Homo sapiens: one gene and its partner. The protein of the gene in region 1 purifies or fractionates together with the protein of each later gene. This does not show direct contact. Each region holds a gene or a part of one and is shown on either strand. Other genes may lie near its edges. The genes, in order: PRELID3A and AMN1.

Region 1 (3,819 bases):
ATGTGGCTATTTAATTTTAAGCTATTTATGGCCAGTGCGGTGGCCCACGCCTGTAATCCCAGCACTTTGGGAGGCTGAGGCAGGCAGGTCACCTGACTTCTCTGAGGTCAGGATTTCCAGACCAGCTTGGCCAACATGGCAAAACCCCATCTCTACTAAAAATACAAAAATTAGCCGGGCATGGTGGCGGGTGCCTGTAGTCCCAGCTACTCTGGAGGCTGAGGCAGGAGAATCGCTTGAATCTGGGAGGTGGAGGTTGCAGTGAGCTGAGATCGCGCCATTGCACTCAAGAGTGAAACTCCATCTGAAAAAAAAAAATTAAACTAATTAGGATAAAATAAAATTAAAAATTCCATTCCTCAGTCACATGAGCCACATTTCAGGTGTGCATTAGCTGCATGTGTGTGTGGCTACCATATCAGACAGCATGCATAGGACATTACTGTTAGCACAGAAAATTCTGTTAGTGTGGCTCTAGAGCTCGAGTGTTTAAATTGGTTTTGACAGAAAATATAGGCTGGGCGCAGTGGCTCATGCCTGTAATCCCAGCACTTTGGGAGGCCGAGGCGGGTGGATCATGAGGTCAGGAGATCAAGACCATCCTGGCTAACATGGTGAAACCCCGTCTCTACTAAAAATACAAAAAAAAAAAAAAAAAATTAGCCAGGCATGGTGGCGGGCGCCTGTAGTCCCAGCTACTGGGGAGGCTGAGGCAGGAGAATGGTGTGAACCCAGAAGGCGGAGCTTGCAGTGAGCCGAGATCATGCCACTGCACTCCAGCCTGGGCGACAGAGCGAGACTCCATCTCAAAAAAAAAAAAAAGTAGAAAATATAGGCCGGGCCCAGTGGCTGACACCTGTAATCCCAGCACTTTGGGAGGCCAAGGTGGGAGGATCGCTTGAGCTCAGGAGTTTGAGACCAGCCCGGGCAGCATTGCAAAATCCCATCTCTACAAAAAATTTAAAAATTAGCCGGATGTGGTGGTGTGCACCTGTAGTCCCAGCTACTCAGGAGGCTGAAGTGAGAGGATCACTTGAGACCTGGAAGTTGAGGATGCAGTGAGCCTTGATCACACCACTGCACTCCAGCCTGGGCAACAGAACAAGACTCTGTCTCAAAAAATAAAAAAGAGGCCAGGTGTGGTGGCTCATGCCTGTAATCCCAACACTTTGGGAGGGTAAGGCAGACAGATCACGAGGTCAGGAGATTGAGACCATCCTGGCCAACATGCTGAAACCCTGTCTCTACTAAAATACAAAAAAAAACTTAGCCAGGCATGGTGGCACATGCCTGTAATCCCAGCTACTCCGGAGGCTGAGGCAGGGGAATCACTTCAACCTGGGAGGCAGAGGTTGCAGTGAGCCAAGATCATGCCCCTGCAGTCCAGCCTGGTAACAGAGCGAGACTCTGTCTCAAAAAAATAAGAGAGAAAAAGAAAAAGAAAATATAGGCCGGGTGGAGTGGCTCACGCCTGTAATCCCAGCACTTTGGGAGGCCAAGGCGGGCGGATCACGAGGTCAGGAGATCGAGACCATCCTGGCTAACACGGTGAAACTCCGTCTCTACTAAAAATACAAAAAATTAGCTGGGCATGGTGGCAGGTGCCTGTAGTCCCAGCTACTCGGGAGGCTGAGGCAGGAGAATGGTGTGAACCCAGGAGGCAGAGCTTTCAGTGAGCCGAGATCGCGCCACTGCACTCCAGCCTGGGCTACACAGTGAGACTCCATCTCAAAAAAAAAAAAAGTATAAATATGTACATAAGGAGTTAGTCTGTTTATAGGAAGCGGTACTGGAGGAGACAAGAACCCTGCAGTCTCCATGTAGATTCAGAGTCTGTCCCATCCAGTCCTAGGAGACAGTGCTCTGTGGGCTGCCATGGGTAGGTGAAAAGCTTTCTCTCACTTATATGGACACACAGGCCTATTTGTCCTTTTCTATGGTACAACTGCTGATAGTTTTGGCAGCTTGACTGTACCTTGAAGGCCAGAGCCCTGCTCACATGTGGAGTGGGACATGGGAAGAAGATAGATGACAGTTGCCAGAAGGAACAGCAAAACCATGGTTTCCTAGGATTTAATGTGGTCGTATCTCCTATGCCTAAAAGTTTCTTCTGTTCTGGCCCCACTAAGTGCTAATTTTGGGATGGAAGAGTATGGGCAGTTGGCTTCAGAAGAAATGCAAGAGAAATACAATCTAAACCTTTTTTTTCTTTTTAAGATCACACTCACAAATTTGGTGTCAGTTAATGAGAGGTTGGTGTACACACCTCATCCAGAGAACCCAGAAATGTGAGTCATCTCCTGTGGGATTGACACATTGAATGCCACGGGTGAGGGCAGGGCAGACCCTCCTCTCTCTCAGGGCTGGTCAGCCCCTTTTCTTCTTGCTCTTTTGCAGGACCGTGCTCACACAAGAAGCCATCATCACTGTGAAGGGGATTAGCCTTGGTAGTTATTTGGAAAGTTTAATGGCCAATACGATATCATCCAATGCAAAGAAGGTATGTATCTCAATCCTAGGAGTCCTGTGTGTGCTCTAGTTGTTAAGTGCCAGATTAAGAATATGACATTTTTAGTCTCATCAGTCTTCCTGGCTGGGCATGGTGGCTCATGTCTGTAATCCTAGCACTTTGGGAGGCCAACGCAGGTGGACCGCTTGAGGCCAGGAATTCAAGACCAGCCTGGCCAACATGCTGAAACCCCATCTACTAAAAATACAAAAATTAGCTGGGCATAGTGGCACACCTCTGTAGTCCCAGCTACTCGAGAGTCTGAGACATGAGAATTGCTTGGACCCATGAGGCGGAGGTTGCAGTGAGCTGAACCACCACTGCACTCCAGCCTGGGTAACAGAATGAGACTCTGTCTTAAAAAAAAAAATAAAAATAAAAATAAAAAATAAATAAATAAAATCCTGAGTGCTGGGGCTCTCCATTTATGCTGAGCTCATAATGCCACAGTATTTCAAAACTAGGGTAGGGAAAGGCTGACCCAGGTCTGAGGGAAGTGTGTGCATGAAAGCCAAGGGAGCCAAAGTTACTCTTCTCAGTAGAGAAAGTATGGGGTAAACCTGGAGCATAAACCCAGCCAAGGCAACTACCACTTCAAAGAGCCCAAATGTCATAAGCTCAGTTACCAAAGCAAACTAACCCACAACATCAGAAATACAAGGTGTTAACAGTGTCAGGTAGGCTATTCAGGACTTATAGTAGTTTCCTATTTAATGGGCATTAAGTGGCTTTGGCTGAACCTCTCCAGCAGTGACGCTTCCATGGAGCCTGCTGCCGTCTTCACAGCTCCTCTCTGGCAGGATTTGGCAGTAAGCTTTGTGGAGGTGAGAGGAGAAAGGATAGATCCCAGGAGGCCATCCATGGTACTCCCTTTGTGTCCAGGGCACTGGAACAGAGGAAGAGATTGTTCTAGGAGTCCAGGTTGCCCTCCCCTCCAGCAGAGTTGATGGAAAGAGCTTGAATGTTTGGTAGGAAGATGTTCCTCACATTTAAAAGATGCCACTTGCCAGAGCAGGGCCTTTGCTTTTCACCTGGGCCCGCCTCACAGGCTCATGTCTTCTCTTTGTCTGTCCCTCCTACCCCTCACTCTTCCCTTTCCTCCCTCTTTCTCTTCCCTCCTTTTTGGGGGTCAGAAATGAGTCTTCATTTTTGAGATCAGTGGGTGATTCCTAAGGCTGTACTTCCCTTTCCAATGTCCTTCCATGCTTAACTCTCCAACTAGTGGAAAACCATTTATGGCTTGCATTTAGTCTCATCACCAATAGAATAGCCTGTCTATCTAATTCTGTAGAATCCAGATTTGAGAAACA
Region 2 (3,819 bases), on another chromosome or scaffold:
CGTTGACAGGTAGAATGGTGATTAGACTATTATGGAGGAAGAAGTGTCTTACGGGGAAAATGAATCAGAATATCCAGTAGAAATATCAAGCAGGCAGTTAGAATATAATTTTGAATCTGAAAGAAAGATCAAGGATTAGGCTGGGTGCAGTGGCTCATGCCTGTAATCCCAACACTTTGGGAGGCCGAGGCAGGTGAATCACTTGAGGTCAGGAGTTCGAGACCAGCCTAGCCAACATGGTGAAACCCTGTCTCTACCAAAAATACAAAAAAAATTAACTGGGCATGGTGGTGCACATGTGTATTCCCAGCTACTTGGGAGGCTGAGACAGGAGAATTGCTTGAACCCAGGAGGCGGAGCTTGGAGTGAGCCAAGATGGTGCTACTGCACTCCAGCCTGGGCAACAGAGTGAGACTCCATCTCTAAATAAATAAATACATAAATACACAAATAAAATGAAGAGAGATCAAGGATTGAAACTAAGATTGGGGGTATAACTTTGTAGATGATAGGAAGCCATGGTTAAGTTTAAAAGAGGGCTATAGAGAGAAAAAAAGAAAGTCAAGGACAAAATTTTATGTAACACTTACATTAGAAGCAGTCCATGTTGCCAAAACTCTTTTATTTGTTAGATCAATTCACCATATGATGATTTGGCCAAATAGTAATAGGTTGTTTCTTTTAAGTATAAAACGTAGAGCAACTATTATTGGTTGGGATATCCACCCGTCTCCCCAATTGTTTTACAGCTTTTAAAGATTATAAGTTTTAGCTGACTTCTTTTCATTTTGTCTTGAGAAATGAGACTGCCTGTGCCAACTGTGGGGCCTGAGAATCAACACCACTTATGTCAACCTAACTTTTTGCTCTAGGAAATTTTTGCAAATCAGTTTATCTAAATAAACAGCTATCAGGACAAACATTTTGATTTTTAGGACAAACATTATGTTTATCTGGACAGATTGCTCATCAAGCCTGGCTTTTTGTGTCCATCCGTTTTAAACTAAGTCACAAACTTTGCCTAATCCTTACCCATTCGCCACTGTGGGGGGAGAAGCACCCACTTAAACTGGTGGCGTTTATATCCCAGAAACTTATGTATACTCTTGCCTAACATTCCTCTATTGAAATGCTACCAAAACCCTGTCAAGATGATCTCCCTTGCTGTAGTAAATGTAATACATGATTTGACAAATTTAATCAATTTGTTTGACCAGCAGGGTTTCTGGATGGGCTTTGTGGCCATTCAATAGTCCTCCCAGAATTTTAAGAACTATTTGATTTGTTTCTGTCCCAACTCCCTGCTATTGCAGCTGGAGGGAACTGGAGCAGAAAGAGGAAACCATTTACTTTGGGAAACACATGGTACAGCCTCTGCACTGCTGAGCTCAGAGAAGAGCATACTAAAGGGCTAAGATGAAAGAGACTGAGAGAAAAAGGTGGCGGTGGGGGGCAGAGAGCCATGTTGTAGGAAAAAGGTAACATATTGAAATATACCTGAAATCTTGCATAAAGCAAAATACAGTAGTCTCTCCTTATGTGCTGTTTTGTTTCGGCAGTTTCAGGTACCTGCAGTCAACCATGGTAAAAAAATATATATATATGTTAAATGGAAAATTCTAGGAAGAAACAATTCATAAATTTTAAATTATGCACCATTTTGAGTAGCATGATGAAATCTCATGCCACCCTGCCCTGTCTGCCCAGGATGTGAATTCTGCCTTCGTTCAGCATATCCATGCTGTCCATTTAGTAGCCTTCTTGGTTATCAGAGCTATTGTCGCAGGGCTACTGCATTCACATAACCCTGATATTACTTAACAATTGCACCAGAGCACAAGAGTACTGATGCTGGCATATTGTTACATGTATTTTTTATTTTTCCACCCAATCCTTGTAGATGTTGTTATAACTGTTCTATTTTATTGTTGTTGTTGTTCATCTCTTACTGTGCCTAATTTATATATTAAACTTTACCACAGGTATGTCTGCATAGTAAATGCAGGGTGTATATATAGGATTTAGGATTCAGTACTATCCATGATTTCAGGTGTCCACAGGGAGTCTTAGAATGTTTTTCCCATGGATAAAGGGGATCTGCTATATAACAGGAGTGATTGTCAGTCACTTCAAATGCTTTACTTTTCTCTAATCCCCTACTCACAGAGGTCATGTGCAAGAGGAACAAGAGCATTTTTATAAAGTTTACACAGACTTACCTTGTTTCCTTGCTTGACTGGTGTGGGTCACTGTAGGGGTACTTGGTGAGCAGTATCCTCAACCAAGTGGTAGTTATCTTTGTTATCTAGGGCAGGAGTTGGTAACCTTTCTGTGAAGGGCCAGAGAGTAATATTTTCAGCTTTGTAGGCTACACACCCTCTGACACAGTTACTCAGCTCTGCCATTGTAGAACACAAGCAGCCACAGACAACACATAAAGAAATGGCAGCAGCCTGAGGATGATAAGGGGTGTGAAACATCTGTTGAATACCTTGACTATCGGCTCATTGTTGAGCAACCTTTGCAGTAAAAGACCTATCATTGTCAGAGTGAAAGTGGTCTGCTTTGGGAGGCCGAGGCGGGTGGATCACGAGGTCAGGAGATCGAGACCATCCTGGCTAACATGGTGAAACCCTGTCTCTACTAAAAATACAAAAACTTAGCCGGGCATAGTGGCGGGCGCCTGTAGTCTCAGCTACTCAGGAGGCTGAGGCAGGAGAATGGTGTGAACCCAGGAGGCGGAGCTTGCAGTGAGCCGAGATCGCAGTGGTCTGGAAAACCAAAAACATAACACACTTTGATCAGTGTGGCTGGAGTTGGTTGATCAGACTGAAACCATGAAACCATAACCTGAAAAAATGTCAACAACTGTAACACATTAACAATAGCCCCAGGGGTGGTGTGTGTGTGCGTGTGTGTTTGTGTGTGTGTCAGTCAAAGGCAGTGTTCCAATAAAATTTGATTTCTTTCTTGTTTTTTGAGACGAGGTCTCACTCTGTTGCCCAGGCTGGAGTGCAGTGGCCCGATCTCAGCTCACTGCAACCTCTGCCTCCCAGGTTCAAGTGATTCTCCTGCCTCAGCCTCCCAAGTAGCTGGGATTACAGGCATGCACTACCACACCTGGCTAATTTTTTGTATTTTTAGTAGAGACAGGGTCTCACCAGCTTGGCCAGCCTGGTCTTGAGCTCCTGACTTCAGGTGATCTGCTTGCCTCAGCCTCCCAAAGTTCTGGGATTACAGGTGTGAGCCACCGTGCCAGGCGTAAAACTTGATTTCTGAAAACTAGCAGCTGGCTACATTTGTCCCACAGGTCATAGTTTGCTGACCCCTGATCCAGGTTTCAGTACAACAAGAGAATCCAGGTGGCTGAACCAGAATTAAGTTTGAATTTCCTAAGTTCCCTTTTGCCAGACTGCCACCCAGAGAGTGTACCAACCAGGCTGACTTGGAGTCATTGTTTGGAGAAAGAAAGCTGCATATCATGCCCAGGAATTGTCAGAGTGGAATCCCAGAATATCAGACTAAGTCTAGCAAACCCTCCCCTTTTCATCCTGATCATTATATAGGAGGTGGCTAGGAGACTATGAACCCTTTCAGGGTGCCTTTTTTGTGACCAAACTACCTTACTAAGATGCATGGACCAGGAGAGTGTGAAGGAGGTAGAGTCAGAAATTTCTTTTAGTGGATTTTTTAAAAGTCCGTTTTACTTCTTGTTGGAGCCAACACCCTAAGGATGATAAGGGGTGTGAAATATCCGTTGAATACCTTGACTTATTGGCTCATTGTTGAGCAACCTCTGCGCAGTAAAAGACATATCAT

The links.
Region 2: the proteins of PRELID3A (region 1) and AMN1 purify together in Homo sapiens (affinity purification with mass spectrometry; one large-scale study listed by BioGRID and IntAct). This does not show direct contact.

The regions. Positions count from the first base shown.
Region 1 is NC_000018.10:12,424,824-12,428,642, forward strand, and holds part of PRELID3A (PRELI domain containing protein 3A), read left to right. Parts: intron 1-2,217; coding exon 2,218-2,288; intron 2,289-2,397; coding exon 2,398-2,500; intron 2,501-3,819. UniProt on the Homo sapiens protein: In vitro, the TRIAP1:PRELID3A complex mediates the transfer of phosphatidic acid (PA) between liposomes and probably functions as a PA transporter across the mitochondrion intermembrane space.
Region 2 is NC_000012.12:31,722,318-31,726,136, reverse strand, and holds part of AMN1 (protein AMN1 homolog), read left to right. Parts: intron 1-1,497; exon of another isoform or gene 1,498-1,569; intron 1,570-2,219; exon of another isoform or gene 2,220-2,348; intron 2,349-3,819.